Linked DNA regions of Homo sapiens: region 1 is linked to region 2. Evidence: fine-mapped expression QTL. A gene starts in region 2. The other region holds a variant in brackets. All regions are shown on one strand. Distances are from middle to middle. Region 1 has its middle 68 kb from the start of SOCS1. Region 2 holds the start of CLEC16A (C-type lectin domain containing 16A).

What was found. PIP is the estimated chance that this variant, and not a neighbour inherited with it, causes the effect.
Region 1: its variant is fine-mapped to the expression of CLEC16A in whole blood (TOPMed, PIP above 0.99).

What each region holds. Positions count from the first base shown.
Region 1 is chr16:11,183,954-11,192,279 of GRCh38, forward strand. No RefSeq gene overlaps it. Among named protein-coding and RNA genes, the nearest start is that of SOCS1, 68 kb to the right of the region's middle. The variant G/C (reference allele first, on the strand shown) is at 3,258.
Region 2 is chr16:10,941,299-10,949,624 of GRCh38, forward strand. It overlaps CLEC16A (C-type lectin domain containing 16A), which reads left to right and starts at 3,266. Exons shown (of 24, transcript NM_015226.3): 1 at 3,266-3,499. The coding sequence starts at 3,420. DEXI (Dexi homolog) reads right to left here and starts at 1,170. Exons shown (of 2, transcript NM_014015.4): 1 at 271-1,170. The coding sequence starts at 707. The coding sequence ends at 420. It also overlaps a transcript of CIITA not described here. RefSeq lists a silencer at 760-1,309 and enhancers at 2,879-3,058, 3,279-3,338, 8,266-8,326.

The DNA.
Region 1 (8,326 bases), 240 kb after region 2:
TTAAGAGGAAGACTTTTCGCTGGAAACAGAAAACCAGCACCACTGCAGCATTCATTTCCTAGGGCCGCCATGACAAATGATCACAAACAGGGCAGCTTAAAACAGTAGATATTTACTCTCCCACAGTTCTGCAGGCCAGTCTAAAATCAAGTTGCCAGCAGGGCTGCTCCTCCTGGAGGCTTAGAGGGAGAAGCTGCCTCCTGCCTCTCTCCCAGCTCCGGTGGCTCCGGCACTTGGCGTTCCTCGCCCCATGAGTGAATCACTCCAGTCCCTGCCTCTCCCCACAGCACCTTCTTCCCCGTGTCTGTGTCAAATCCCCCTCTCCTTTCTCTTGAAAGGACAGCAGTCATTGGATTTAGGGCCCGCCCTGATCGACGGTGGTCTTAACTCAAGATCCTTCATTTCCTCTGCAAAAACCCTATTTCCAAATAACGTCACATTCACAGGGACCAGATTCAGGACATGGACACCTTTTTAGAAGGGCTCACCATTCAACCCATTACCCTTGCCAGAAATTAAAGATATAAAAACAAATGCAGCACAAGCAAATCCATATCATTAAATTTTTAGCCAGGTCCTAGCACCTGCCACAGGCTCTGGGCCCAGCCTTGCCTGTGCCATTAATAGGGGAGGCCTATTGGCGCCTAACCAAGATTTTCTCAGTGATAGGATCAGAAGAGCTAAAACGCCGGGCATGGTGGCTCATGCCTATAACCCCAGCACTTTGGGAGGCTAAGGTGGGCAGATCACTTGAAGTCAGGAGTTCGACACCAGCCTGGCCAACACGGTGAAACCCCGTCTCTACTAAAAATACAAAAATTAACCAGGCCTGTGGTCCCAGCTACTCAGGAGGCTGAAACAGGAAAATCGCTTGAACCCAGGAGGTGGAGGTTGCAGTGAGCTGAGATTGCACCATTGCACACCAGCTTGGGCAACAGAGTGAGACCCTGTCTCAAAAAAAAAAAAAAAAAAAATGCTGACAGAAGAAAAGAACCAGCTCACTCTGGGACTAGGGTATTTAAGTCTGAGTCCTTGTACCCCTAAATGTCATCCCAGATCAGAGATGCCACTATGACACACACATATCACAGTGTGTTGCGAACTGTGGAATTCTTTTTTTTTTTTTTTTGGAGACAGGGTCAAGCTCTGTCACCAAGGCTGGAGAGCAGTGGGGCGGTCATAGTTTACTGCAGCTTCAACCTCCTGGACTCAGACGATCCTCCTTCCTCAGCCTCCCAGAGAGCTGGGACCACAGGCACATGCTGCCGCTCCTGGTTAATTTATTAATTTTTTCATTGCGAGAAGGTCTCACTTGTGCAGGCTGATCTCAAACTTCTAGGCTCAAACAGTCCTCCTGCCTCAGCCTCCCAAAGCACTAAGACAAGAGGCGTGAGTCACAGCGCCCAGCCTTGCAATTCTTATTTCAGTTCTCCCTCTCCAATAGACTCACCCACAGGCAACGACTGTGTTTTATTTTCACCTGTTCTGTGGGAGCTGGGTGCAGGCTCTGGCCCATGAGCTCTCTGTGCATGTATGTTGGATGGATGGATGGACTGATGGATGGAGTCATTCTTGGATACAGTTCCAGATTCTTAAAGCCTGAATTCCATTCAGTTCTCCATGCCCATGGCCCTAACTTTCAGCCTCTCCCTATGTGTGCTCACTCTGGTGTCTTCCAGGCCTTACCAGGGCCAGCCAAAGATCTTCAGGAGAATTTGCCCGGGCCAGGTTGCCAAGGGTAGGAGTGTTTGAGGGCTTTCCTCTGCCACCATCAGAAATTCTGTGTCCCCCAACCCTCCACAGGTATCTGAGCTGAGACCGAGCTGCTGCTGGTATCTCAGTGATGAGCGAGACCTCAAGCAGGGTGGAGTAGGTGGCAGTGCAGGCTTTGGAGTTGCTGACGAGGTTCAAGTCCCTGCACCAATGCTCCCCATCCCTGTGGCCTTGAGTACATGGTGAAACCGCATGAGGCTCAATTTCCTCATCTGTAAAATGGGAACCTTTCTGGCAGTGTCCTTGCTTGTGTAGATGAAGTGGGGGCAGGTAAATCAAGCACCTGTACCCAGCCTGGCACATGCAATTTCAGCCAGGGGGTCTCACCAGCGGCCCAGCCAGAAAAACAGGCTTCAGCCCAGGCCCAGGCCCCCTCAGTTACATGTACCCCCTGAGGTACAAAGCCAGCACCTGTGGGGTACAGCTGAGCCCTGGAATTTTTTAAGGTCCCCAGCTGATCCTCAGAGGCAGCTGTGATGATTCAGTTTATGTGTCAGCCTGACTGGGCTAAGGGGTGCCCAGATAGCGGCATGACATGATTTCCAAGTGTGACTGGGAGGGTGTTTCTGCAAGAAAGTAGAATTTGCAGTAGGGTGAGGTGGCTCATGCCTGTAATCCCAGCACTTTGGGAGGCTGTGGTGGGTGGATCACTTGAGGTCGGGAGTTCGAGACCAACCTGACCAACACGGTGAAATCCTGTCTCTACCGAAAATACAAAAATTAGCTGGGCGTGGTGGTGGGCACCTGTAGTCCCAGCTACTCAGGAGGCTGAGACATGAGAATCGCTTGAACCCAGGAGGCAGAGGTCTGCAGTGAGCCGAGATTGGCCACTGCAGTGAGCCGAGATTGGCCACTGCACTCCAGCCTGGGTGACAGAGTGAGACCCTATCTCAAAAAAAAAAGTGGGGGCTGGGGGAGAGAGTAGCATTTGAAAGAGTAGACTGAGTGAAGAAGATCACCCTCACCACTGTGGGCGGCCACCATTCAATCCATTGAGGGCCCAAATAAAACAAGGAGGAAAAAGGTAAAATTTGCTTTCTGCTTGATCCCGTATGTCCATCTTCGCCTGCCCTTGGACATCAGAGGCCCTGGCTCTCGGGCCTTCCAGCTTGGACTGGAACGACACTGGCTTTCCTGGGCCTCCCAGCTTGCAGACGGCAGATTCTAGGACCCCTTGGCCTCCAGAATTGCATGAGCCAATTCCCATAATACAGACGGCCCCCAACTTATAAGGGTTCAACTGACAATTTTTCAACCTTATGACAGGTTTATCGAGGTACTAAAGTTGTTTTCAACTTAGGATGTGTTTATTGGGATGTAGCCTCATTGTAAATTGAGGGGCATCTGTAAATCTCATTTTTAATTTAATTTTATTTTAGAAACAGGGTCTCACTCTGTCACCGAGGCTGGAGTGCAGTGTTGCCATCAAAGCTCACTGCAGCCTCGAACTCCCAGGCTCAAGCGATCCTGCCGCCTCAGCCTCC[G/C]GAGCATCTGGGACTACGGGCGTGCGCCAGCACACTTGGTAATTTAGTTTTTTTTGTCTCACTATGTTGCCCAGGCTGATCTTGAACTCCTGGCCTAAAGTGATTATCCTGCCTCAGGCTCCCAAAGTGCTGGGATTACAGGCATGAACCGCAGTGCCCAGCCTATAAATCTATATATCTATACCTGCCTACCTATCTACCTACCTATCTGTATCTCCTGTTGGTTCTGTTTCTCTGAAGAATCCTGACTGATACAGCACCCAAAATAAGAAGCCAGCCTGGCCCACCTCTGCAGCCCACCCTGGCTACACCCCACCACTTGGAGCACACAAGCCCTCTGCCCTGTCCTGGAAGACCCCTCAACTGATTCCCCTCCCAGGACCTTGGCACCTGCCTTTCCTCCCTCCAGCCCCCTCCCCAACCTCTGCACCTGCACCCATCCTCTGTCGTTATCCTCCGTCCACAGAATCAGTGTTACTTCCAGGGACTATTCTGACGTCAGACCCCTGCTTTCCTCCATCAGCAGCTGCCACCCATTTCTTTCCTGGCGTTTGTCACACCTCAAAGGATTTTTGTTTCTTTGCCATGAGCAAAATCTCATGGCTTTCGTTTGGGGAACCCCTGACATCAGAGGCCTGAAAGGAGGACACAGTGCTGCTGGTTTATTTGGGTAGTGGCCCCAGGAAGCTGGAGTGGGAGCTGGGAGAGAAGGGCAGGAGGCCAGTAGACAGGGCACAGCTGGCCTGGTCACCGCCAGACACTGCTGGGGGCACTTGATACTCAGCCTCTCTGGAGCCCCTCTGCAGAGCTGCATAGATGAGCCTTGGGACTGGTCCTGGGAGGGGCAGGAGGTCAGGCATTTATCCCCCAACTCTCATGCCCTGTTGGCTGAGGACTGTCCCATGCCATGAAGGTCCTGCTTCCTCCCAGCTGCCTCGCCTGGAGCCGAGATGGCTCCTGAGTGAGCTCCTCATTTGGACAGAAAATTGGAGACTCAACAGGCACATGGGCTGGAAGACTGGTGGGGGCCTGGGGACCTGGAGTGGATGCAGGGAGGCGCTACCAGACCCCAAACACAGTAGCCACACCCCCCAAACCAGAGGTTACAAATGGGCAGCCCCTGGGTCCAGTGCAGCCCCTCTGTGTGTTCCGTTTGGCCATCAAAGGCTTTTAAAAGAACCATTGAGCCAAGATTTTAAACGTCGGGGATCTGGTACAAATACCTGGATTCCTGGCTTCTCTTTAAAAATCACATGTGAGGATCTTGGGCCCTTGTCCACCTGGATAGAAGTACGGACCAGTCTTTGGCAGGTGTGGGCTCCCCACCCTGTCAGCTCCCCCAACACCTGGGCCTAGGGGCAGACTGGTGATCGGTGGCTGGTACAGTATTTTCTCCTTACCCTGACCCCTTCACCTCCAGTAGCCCTTCCGAACCCCTGGGTCAGGTGCAGGGAGCTCAATATTTGATTAGCCCAGCCCCTGTGGGTAAACTGAGGCCACCCTCCTGAGCACTCTCCGCTGCTACCCGCATGTCCCCTCCCCAAGAAGGCAGCTAAAAATATTCAAGTTGCTGCCCTATGGGCCGAGACCCAGGGCCTCCTCACTCTCTCATTCCACCTCCGCCTGTGTGCCTGCTTGGGCTGCATCCTGGGGACACAGAGGTGACCTGAACACAGCCATTGCCCTCACAAAGGACAGGATCTAACAACAGACAGGCAGACCATGACTTCCCAGCTGTGGCATCTGCACACAGGGCACAGAAACTAACTTCTTAGGCCTCCATTTCCTCATCTGGAAAATGGGTCGCTCCCTGGGTTCCCTCTCCCCATTTGCATGCCCCAGCGGATGGTAGGAACCACTCCGCTTGTTCATTCAATCCCCGTGTTTGTTCTTTGGCTCCACTCTGCAGCACTAGCTCCCGGGCCAGGCTGGGCGTGGCGTAGATGGAAGATGGTAAAGAAGCCAGCTAGAAAGGCAGGAACGCAGCGTGACGGTGCCATACCCAGAGGGCCTGCCTGGGCAGCCCCCAGAGGCCTTCAAAGCTACACTGGAGAGCTTGGCCGAGGGACCAATGGCAATGGCACACACTGAAGTGTTTTACACAAAAAAAACCGCCTGGCTGGATGTGGCTGGCAAGAAGATGGCCGGAGCTGCAGGTGACGAGTGATCAAGAGGAGCCCATGGCAGTGGGGACAGGTCACAGCTGAAGTGGGTGACCTGCAACATGTTCAGCAGGTAAAATTGACAGGTTTGGTCGGACTGGCCACAAGGGAGAGGACGGGTAAAGGACAGCTCTTGGTCTCTGGCCAGGCCGGCGGCTCAACAAGTGTCCAAACAAACCATCCGTGTGCCCGGTGTCTACCTGAGCTGCCGTCACCTCTTCCTTTGCCGGGTTTCATTTTTCTCTTTTGCTGTGTTGCTGCAACTGGTTGCCAAAAGGACTGCACAGCTCTCCTGGCAATTTGGCAAAGTCTAGAACAACAGTATTTCCCATAATCTCACCATTAAAGGACAACCCTTGTGGACATCCTGGCAGATTTCTTTCTGGTCTTTTTTCTATGCATTTTAGAATTGAAATAACACAGTGGGTGTCATTTCATGTCATGCTTTTGACCCAGCGTGACATGATATGGTTCATCATTTCTCCACGATCCTGGAAACTCCATTTTTTTTTTTTTTTTTTGAGATGGAGTCTCATGCTGTTGCCTAGGCAGGAGTGCAGTGGTGCCATCTCAGCTCACCGCAACCTCTGCCTCCCGGGTTCAGGCAATTCTCCTGCCTCGGTGTCCTGAGTAGCTGGGATTACAGGCATGCACCAACATGCCCGGCTAATTTTTGTATTTTTAGTAGAGATGGGTTTTCCCCATGTTGCCCTGCCTCATCTCAAACTCCTGGGCTCAAGCAATTTGCCCACCTCAGCCTCCCAAAGTGCTGGGATTACAGGTGCGAGCCACTGAGTCTGGCCATGGAAACTCCATTTCTAAAGTGTGTAACAAGTTCTGCTGCAGGGAATGTATCCCTGTGGCTAGCTGTGCACCCTCATGGTCTATCCACATTTTATATTACCTCCCCAGAAGAGGTCCTGAGCATGGGAATTACTAGATCATAGAAAGGTAAACCATCTTAAGACTCTGGCTACAAATTGCCAGATTGCTTTCCAAAAATATTGGACCACTGACACTCTCACCAGCGATGTACACAAGTGCCCATCTCACCACAGCCTCCCCACCGCCAAATGTTGTACATTTTAAATCTTTCCCGATTTACAGCCCAGCTCAGAGTTCACCTCCTCTGAGAAGCCTCCTCAGATTTCCCCTCTCCATCCTCGACATTCCCACAGCCAGCGGCCCCCCTCCCTCCACTTGTCCCTAGTCCATCCCAGCTGGAGGTCTGACGTTCCAGGGCTGGAGTCTCCTCTGATCCAGGTGAGGCCCCCAGCAGCTTCCCAGCCTCAATCAGCCTGCATATTTTGAGTCTCTTGTAGATGGTGGGAAGCCTTCTAGTAGTATCATCTTCTTTTACAGAACAGCAACTGAGACCCAGACCAGGGAGGCTGAGTGACTGATCCTGAGTCACACAGCTATGAGGCAGTGTTGCTGCAGCTAAAATAGCAGCAAAAACTCCCACTTAATGGGCACTTCCTCCAGGCCAGGCTTAGCTAAGCAGTTTCTAAGCCTAATCGGAGTTCATACTCCCAATAACCTTGCTGCGCTGGGACTATTATTATCCCCATGTTACAGATGGCGGACCCTTGAACCAGGGCCACTTGGCTGAGAAGCGAAGTCCCCCCTGGGACTTGGACCTAAAATCTGAAGTCGGCAGTGCCTTGAGCAGGAGTCCACGAGCCTGGTCCAGTGCCCTGGGCCTGGCATCCTTTGCCTCTCACAGAGCAGATACAGGCAGCCAAAGACAGAAGGAGCCCCCACCCCACACCGTGACCAGGGCCAGAGCAGGCCTTGTGCCAGCTCCAGGTGCCACAGCAGGGCACCTGCCCCACCCCGCCCCCACCTTGGGTTGCCCTGCAGATTCACAGGAACAGCCTGGAGCCCACCCAATCTCAGTGGCTTCTCTCGAACATGCTTATCTCCCACCCCTTATTGACTTGGGGCTTTTCCTGCCAATCTGCCCAAGCGGGAACAGCCCTTTTCAGAGTAACTGCTGCCAAAATCCATTGGCGCAGCGCACCGTCTGCCTGGGCCTTGATGGCATCTGTCATGAGAGGTGGGAACTAGAAAGCCCCATCCTCGGGCCCCTCCCCAGGAGGCTTCAGCAGGTGGAGAGGGAAGGCTTGGCTTCTCCCAGGACTTGAACATTGATCCAGCAAAACTTAGCTGGGCACAGTGGCTCACATCTGTAATCCCAGCACTTTTGGGAGTCTGAGGTGGGAGAATCACTTGAGCCCAGGAGTTTGAGACCAGCCTGACCAACATGGCGAAACCCCATCTCTACTAAAAATACAAAAAATAGCTGGGTGTGGTGGCATGCGCCTGTAGTCCCAACTACTCAGGTGGCTGAGGCATGAGAATCGCCTGAACACAGGAGACGGAGGTTGCAGTGAGCTGAGATCATGTCACTGCACTCCAGCTTGGGTGATAGAGTGGCACTTTGTCTAAAAAAACAAAAAACAAACAAACAAAAAACGTTGACTGAGCACATACTGTGTACCAGACACTGTACAGGTCACTAGGGAGGCAGCAGTAAATGACTCAGACAAGGGAGGGAAGGACCTCCCAGCAGGGGACATAGGCAACAAAGAAAATTAAAAATAGGTAAATTCTATAAAAATACAGCCAAGGAAGGGGGATCAGCAGGCCAGTAAGGGGAAGAAAGGAGCTACCGTTTTAAACCAGGAGGTCAGGGAAGGTTGTTCTGAGAAAGGACTTTGAGCAGAGATTGAAGGAGGTGAGTGAGAGAACCTCATGGATGTCTGGGGTGACAGCACCCCAGGCAGAGGGAACAGCCAGTGCAAAGGCCCTGGAGCACCCTGGAGGAGCTGCGAGCACTGGCATGGCTGGAGAGGAGCTAGGGAGAGTAAGGGTAGAGGTGTCAGAGCAATGATGGGGAAGACC
Region 2 (8,326 bases):
GCTTTGGGGGTAAGTCACAGAGCTACCCCAAATGTAACTTAGTCTCGGGGTCTCCTTCCTTTTCACCAGCTGTCCCCTTTGCTGGAGGAAGCTTTCCAGCCCAAACGAAGGGCTTAAGAGGAGTCTGGCCATTCCTGGCATCCAGTTAGACCTGGAGGAGGTGAACGGAGGAGAAGCCTGAGGGAGGGGTGTGTATCCGGCCTGGGAATTCCTCCCTCTCCCTTGCTAGCGCCCCAACCCGCCCTCATCCTGTTCAGAGAGGGCACTTACAGGCCTCGGAGGCAGGGGAGGGTCTCCTCCTGGGGAACCATCCCCGTCCAGATGGTGCCCCCAACCAGCTGCGGCGGCATGATCTGGGCGGCTGGTCCAGGGCATGGGTTGCGGATCGTGTAGGGAAGAGGGGAACAGCAGTCGAGACCCTACTCCAAGTACGCATCAAAGACGTCGAGCTCCGAGTCAGCATCGTAAAGGCCCGAGCCGGGGTCGGAGAGCACGCCGAGGTCCACGAGCGCCTGGTCCATGTCCTCGGGCAGGAAGACGAGGCCCACGTTGAGGACGATGTACTCCATGAGGAAGGCGTAGTACAGGATCAGCACATTGACGAAGAACAGGCCCACGTAGAACATAGAGGGCAGCAGCGGCGGCGGCACGTAGGGGACCAGGGGGCCCAGTGCGTCCAGGTGGGCCGCGACCCGGGCGCCGAGCATGCAGCGGGTGGCAAGGGCGGCGGCCCGGCGATCCCGGCGAACTCAGCCGCTGCGGCGCCCGGGCGGCCGGCGAGGGCACAGCGCAGCCATCCAGGGGTACCCTGGAGCCCGACAGAAGCAGGGCCGGGCTCCAGATGTCCCCTGGCAATTGCGCCCCGACCCCCGAAATGCGCCGGGCGGGTCACCGCACCCCGAGATGTGCCCCCAAGGATCTCTCGACCGCCCGGGCGGCGAGGCGGGCCCCCCTGAAGTGGCCCGCGGCTGCCCGGCTCCCTCGTGGCGCCTCCCTGGCGCTCGCAGGGCCTCGCAGAGCCGGTGGGGATCCCACCGCGGCTCAGTGTCTAGGGCCGGTCCCGGCAGCCTTCTCTCCCGCCCCGCCCCGCAGGTCCTCGCGCACCCCCCGCGCCCCCGCAGGCCCAGCACCCATGGCTGCGGCCGCCGCGTAGCCCTCCCGGTGGCGCTCGGAGCTCCGCCTCCCGAGGGGCCCCGAGCTCATTGGCAGGCCGCCCCCTGCACGCGCTAATTGGCCGGCTCAACGCCCGCGCTGATTGGCTCCGGCCGCCAGGGGGCGGGTACCGCTTCGCTCCGCCCCTCGGGGCCCTAGCGTCTGAGTTGCTTTCCTGGTTCGGGTCTGCCCTCAGATCTCAAATCGAATTCGCTCTGCGTATCGAATAGGGGGAGGTAAAAGAGACTGAACACAGTTCAAACCTAGACATAATGCTAAGGCCGCAAAAGCCGAAGGAAACCCGGGCTACCGCTGCACCTTGCTGCATGCCTCTTTGGGACTCCGTTTCTCCTTTAAAAGGAGGCGGGGTCGGGGAGGGGCGACGGACGGTTGCCCTGGAAATTTTGGACATTCCCAAAGCGCCAATTTTCATGGTGGAGATCCACCAGTGTCCCCTTCGCTTCTCCAAACTCTGGTTGCTGGAAGGTCCGCCCACTACGGAACCTGCATCCTAGAGTTAAGGAACACCTGAATAAAGAGATTCCGAGGTAGTTCAGATCTTCAACCATAAGGATGCTTTTTGTTTCTTTTTACTTTGTGAATCATGTTTAAAAGCAATAATACACATGGCTAAACATTCAAACAACCGTGAAGTACACAGAAAAGTGAGTCTCTCCCACCCACTGGTTCCCCTGCTCTTGGGTAACCGTTGCATGTCTTTCAGGAAAACATGATCTCGCCCAAAGAGCCTTCCAAAGCAGTTCAAGAAACCTTTAAATCTCAGGCCACACTGAGCTGAGTATTTTACATGCATCGCTTAATCGGAGGTATACAAGGCAGTGTAGTATGTATGTGCGTACTTTTTACAGATGAAAAATACGAGCCCAGGGATCCTACATTTCTGAGCCTGGGTGTGTTTCTTTGGAGGCCAGATCCTGTTCTTTTTTGCTCCATGACTTTGTCTTGCCCCACTCTATATGAATTACAGGACAAACCATTAACTCTCCACTCTTATCCATTTCTCCAACTGCTGAAGGTGAAACAAACCTTTACTCATTCATGCACTCTACCAATATTTGTTAAACACCTGCTATGTGCCAAACCTTGTGCTAGGCACTGGGGAGAACATTGGCCTCTGGCCCAGTTCTTTCTTGAGCAGAGTTAATGGGACACAGTGGACCTTTAATAAGGTTGATATGTAGAAGTGACTGAATGAATGAATGGATGGTAAACTTGAGAAGTCTTGCCCACACTGAACTTACCACTTCTAATCCAGGGTAGAAGTTAGATATATTCTGGCTCATGCAGAAAGTTGGGTGTTTCCTTTTTCATTTTAACGTGGTACTTTGGGAAATAGCATGGATTCTGGCTGAAGACCAGAGGAATCCTCTGGAAGTACAAAATGTTCAGTTTGGTGCATTGTTGCATCCAGCCTTTTCCAACACACACACACACACACACACACACACACACACACACACACACACACACACACACTTAATTGAAGTGGAAAAAGAAAAAGGCTGTCAGGACAAATAAGGTTGTTATCTAGTGCCGTTTTGGTTTATAAAGGGAATGAAAAATAAGGGTGCGTGCGTGGTTATGAACCCTGGTTTTGCCACTTGTTAACTGCATGATCTTGGGTAAGTCAACCTCTCAGTGACTCCGTTTCCCTGATGATAAAATAGGTTCGATAATAGTACCCAATTCATAGGATGGTTGTGAAAATTAAATACCTTAATATGTAAAGCCCTTAGGATAGTGGCTTTGCATAGTATACACCATCCAATACTATTCTTATTCTTATTATAAATCTAGTAATTGTTACTACAGTGGTGACTTTCCTTGACCCATCTACGCCGATTCCCTCTCCGGGACTGCGCCCAAAGCTTCCAATTCCCGCCCACCCGGAGGATTCTGCGGTCGCTCCTCCTCTCGCCCCGCCTTTTGTGGATGGCCGTAGGCCCGCGGTTGCACGATGCATGCCGGGCCTTGTAGTCCGTTCGCGGAGTCCTGCCGCCGAAGGCCACGCGGGTGAACTGCATTTCCCAGCGCCCCACGCGGCGGCGGCCGTAAAGCGCGGCGGTCGAACGGCCGGTTCCGGCTGAATGTCAGTGCTGGGCTGTGGGCCGGGGAGGAAGGCGGCTCGCGGTTCCTCCACCGCCTCCGCCGCCGCATCCTCCGCTTGTGCTACCGCCGCGGGCGCTGGGCCGCTCTGCTGGTCCGGCATGAGACCGTGAGACGAGAGACGGGTCGGGGCCGCCGACATGTTTGGCCGCTCGCGGAGCTGGGTGGGCGGGGGCCATGGCAAGACTTCCCGCAACATCCACTCCTTGGACCACCTCAAGTGAGTGTGGGGGGCGTAGCGGGAGGCCTCGGGGCTGGACAGGGGGACGGGGCGCCGAGCTCCGGGTCGGGGCTCTAGGAGGCGTGAGAGCGGCGGCGAAGGGCGCCCGGGGAAGCCCGTGTGGTGGTTAAGAGCGAGGGCTCGGGAGTCAGGGCGCCTGGGTTCGAACCCTGACCCCGTCGCTCTTGGCTGTGTGACCTTGGACAAGTCGCTTAATTTCTCAGAGTCTCCGTATCCCCACCTGTAAAGCGAGAGGATGCGATTTCAGTTTATGGACACAGACTTTGTTCTTGACGGTGTCCACCAAGTTTCCTGGCGGGGTACTTCTTAAACTGAACAGCTTAGAGGGTCAAAGGCCTGGGTCCTGGAGTCGGGCAGATCTGGGTCCGAATCTATCTGTGTGAATGTAGGCCTCAGGTTCCCCACTTGTAAAAAGAGTAGAGTGACAGCACCTGCTTCCTGCTATTGTGTTGAGAGTTGGTTGGATAAGAGAATGAACGTTAAGCTCAGAACACGTACAATTGCTCATTAAACGGCATTAATTATTATAAAAGAACAGATTATTTTCCGAGGGGAGTCTAAGCTGGGGGCATGCACGCTGAGACCCAGGATTTTGGGGCGATTGGGGAGGATGATGAAAAATAGAGACCTCTGAGGAGGGAATGACTCTACAGCTCTGGGGGAGGACAGGTGGCAGATAGGGTCTTGGGACCAGGAGTGCAGAAATTAAGAGGCTGGCTTTGCAGCCACACCTGCGTTCAAATCCTGAAACCACCATTTACTGGCTGTGTGACCTTGGGCAAATTACTTCACCTCTCTGAGCCTCCAGATTCCCATTTGCAAATGGGGATCGTGAACATTGTAATGGAAATGGAAGGTGACTGACCCAGTAGGTACATAGTAGGTGGCCAGTAGTGGTAGCTGTGTTTATTATCAGCTCAGCGAGGCCTTCCCAGACCACCCTACCTAACGTGCTCCCCCCATCCCAGTTCCTATCCATCACATCTTTCTCTTGCTTTCATTGAGTGCTTCTCCACTCTCTGCGATTATTCTTTATTTTTTATTTATACTTATTTTCTGTCTTCTGTTAAACTGGCACTTCACGAGGGCACAGACTGCTTGGTTTGTTCACAGTTGTATTCCCAGCATCTAGGACTGCTCTCTGCTTACTTAAAGAGTGGAAAAATGAATGATTGAATTGGGGAGAGATGAAGAGCATGCAGGCCAGGACCCAGGATTTGGGGGCAGGTGTGGAGGATGATGAAAAATAGAGATCTGTATGAAGGGAAAGGCTTTAGGGAGGGAAATGGCGGGGATGCTGAAGAGGGGAGTAGACAAATCTTCAGTGTCAAGAAATAGGCAGGTTTCCAGAAGGAGATCCTGAGACTACTAATGGGAAAGGAGGAAGATAGGGTTAGGGATATGGTGGGAAGTAGTGGAAGGGAGACGGGGCTGTGGAAAGGATTGGTGGGAGGGAATTAGATAGGGACTTCTCATGTGTCCCCGGGAGTGGGGTAGGGGTAGTGGCAGGGCCACAGTTCTCAGCTGTGACCTTTCTAGCATGGAGCAGCATTTAGTAAACGTTTGTGAGTCTTGAAGAGTGGGGAGCAGGAGGGTTCACTATGTGGTGAGGGGCACTTTTAGAGCAGGAGGTGGTGAGAGAAGACAAGGGGAGGAAAGAGGCCCAGGACAAGTCTGGGGTGGGTAGGGAGGTGGGGATCTTAGATGGGAGGGCAGCTGGCCGGGAAAGGGAGTGGTTGAAGGATTTCAGGAATTTATCGAGTGGGCGGAGGTGGCTGAGGAGGGGAGGGGAGTTATCCAGAGGAGGTTGGGCCTCCTGCCGGCATCCAGGTACCTCCAGGTTCTCACCTAACTCTGCTTAACTCTAGCCCTTTTAAATTACCTTAATTTATTAATTTATCGAATGCATTATTCTGTACCAGGTATTTGCTAAGGACTGCCTGTGTGTTAATTCCCTTAGTCCTCACAAGTCTGAGTTACAGGAACCATTATTGTTTCCATTTTACGGAAGTGGAAACTAAGGTTCAGGGGGCTTCAGTGACTTGCCCCCAGGTGTCAGCAGCTGAAGGGTACCAGAGGCAGGATTTGACTCCCGAGCTTGTGCTCATTATACTGTCTTTCTGAATAAAACTTCCCAATAAGTCTGTTTGAGAACACTTTTGACTTGGCTGAGTCTCATCGCCAATGGGGCATCTTTGCCAGCCAGCAGGGAATGGTAAACGGTCTCTGGTTCCTTTGCAGTATCCTGGGAACTGCCTGGGTTCATTGTTTAGATCACATGTCTATCGGATGCTTCTTTGGAAACCCAAGTTGCCTGCCCTGAATCAGGCAGATCAGCTTAATCCATATTACAGCCCCAAGAACCTGAGATTTGTGTATTGGTGGGGGGGTTAGAAGATCCCCCAGTGACTTGGAAAAGAGTTTTGTAAACAGCCAGTGCCCACCCTGGGGCTTGTGCCACTCTGCATTTGGCTCTGTTGGTAAACATCTTGGGTCTTGGGTACAGAACAGCTCGTTCCCTGAGGGAGTTTGCAGGCTGGTGGGGGAGACAGCTGTAGAGCCAGTGACTGTACAGTGTGATAAGTGCTGAGATCGCCATGGACCCAGGGTTCTGTGGGAACCCTTATTGGGAGCTTTCTGGAGGAGACAACACCAGCGCGGGTTCTCCAAGAATGAACAGAAGCCACCATTGGCGGGCAGCAGGGGCGGGAGGCGGAGCACTGTGACCAGGACCCTGCGGGTTTTGTGGCATGTCCAGGTGGGGGCTGATAGCTGTGGGAAACAAGGCTGGAAGTAGGAAGGGGCTTGGGATTTATCTGACACTTCGGGTGACCAACCGTCCTGGTTTGCCTGGGCTGAGGGGTTTCCCAGGATATGGGACTTTCAGTGCTAAAACTGGGAAAGTCCTGGACAAACTAGTATAAACTGGTCACCCTACCAGTGACAAGTGACAGTTCTTAATACACTCTTACCTTGACCTAGAGCAGTATGGATGGAGAGGGAAAGTTTAAGATAGTTAAAAGAATTATTTATTTATTATTATTATTTTTTAAATACACAAGGCATCTGGAAACCCTCTTCTTTTTTTTTTTGAGATAAGAGTCTTGCTCTGTTGCCCAGGCTGGAGTGCAGTGGCACGATCTTGGCTCACTGCAAGCTCCGCCTCCCGGGTTCACGCCATTCTCCTGCCTCAGCCTCCAGAGTAGCTGGGACTACAGGCGCCCGCCACCACGCCCAGCTAATTTTTTGTATTTTTAGTAGAGACGGGGTTTCACCGTGTTAGCCAGGATGGTCTCGATCTCCTGACCTTGTGATCTGCCCTCCTTGACCTCCCAAAGTGCTGGGATTACAGGCATGAGCCACTGCACCCGGCCTAGACTTTACTTTTTTAGAACAGTTTGAGATTTACAGAAAGGTTGAGAAGATAGCACAGAGAGCTGGAAACTGTTTTTAGCTTCATTATTCTTTGTAACACTCCCAGCTTGCAAACTGGAAAGGAATTTTCCTGTTAGGGTTTTACTTTTGCTAAATGGTAGAAAACTTCATACCTGTGGTCTCTGTCTGCTGAACTGAGTTAGTGATTTAGCTCAGGCAGATTGAAGTAGTCAAGAGGTTATTTGCTACACACCATGGGTGGTTTATTGTCCAGATTAGTGGCAAGGCTGTGACATTGACTGACAAATGTCCACCACCAAGCGGAAGCCTGAGTGATGGAATCGTTTGATTGCTACTGAAACATCATCTTTACCAGGGACTGCAAGTCTGCGGCTGGTAGAAATTGGTCGTTTTTGTATTGTGGCCTTCATTCTGGTCCACTTTGTGTGGGGGTCAAGATTTTTGGTTCCAGTGACAGAAACCCAGCTAGAATTGCCTTAAGCCTCAAATGGATTGAATAGCTCATGTCACTGAATGGTCTGTCCCCGCTAAACCATGGCTGAATCCAGGTGTTTGGAGCCGTCAGAAATCGGCCTTTTTCCACCTTTCAGCTCTACCTTTTTCCTGTTGGTGTCATTTTCAGGCAGGCTGCAGGCTTACATCATATCAGCTTAGCATTCCTGAGGAAAAAGAGAGCTTCTTTTCTCAATATTGCCAGCAGAAGTCCAGAATTGAGATTGAGTATCCCTGGACCAGCAAGGTCTCATGCCACCCCTGAACTGTCACTCTGGCCAAAGGTATAGGGGGATCTGATTGGCCATTCCTCACTCATATTCCCTTCCCTGGAGCAAGAGTGGGATTAGCTCCACTCAAGCTAGTGGAAAAGAATGAGAGAAAAGAGTGGTTCCCCATGGGAGAATCAGGGGTTATTGCCCAAAGAAGGCGGAGAATGGATCCATGGCAGGTAGACAGACGCACACCTACTCTTGGTGCTTTCAAGTTTTGGCTAAGGTGGCACTGACAGTGTTAGAGCTTGGGGTACAATATTGCCATGTTGATTTTCTTAAAATATCGTCTTCACCATGCCACATATTATGGGTCCTAGGCTCCCACTATGTCACGTCTAAGTTCTTCCAGGCCTTCCCACCATCTAGTTTGGGAGCACAGGGAGTTAGGAACATCCTTGTTAGGCAGACGCTGTTTAAATGGAGACCAACGGGGTGAGTCGTTGTTACCAGGCAGCGGGGTGTCAGGTGGAAGGAAGGATGTTTCAGGCAGAGGAAAAGGCATTTGAGAAAGCCTAGTGGGGCAAGGGGAGCAGTGCACATTGGCAGAACTCACGTGGTTCAGCAGGGGAGTGTTCACTGGGTGAAGAGGAAGTGAGGACCCAAGCTCAGAGCCATGCTTGGCAGTCTCCAGAGGCCAGGTCCC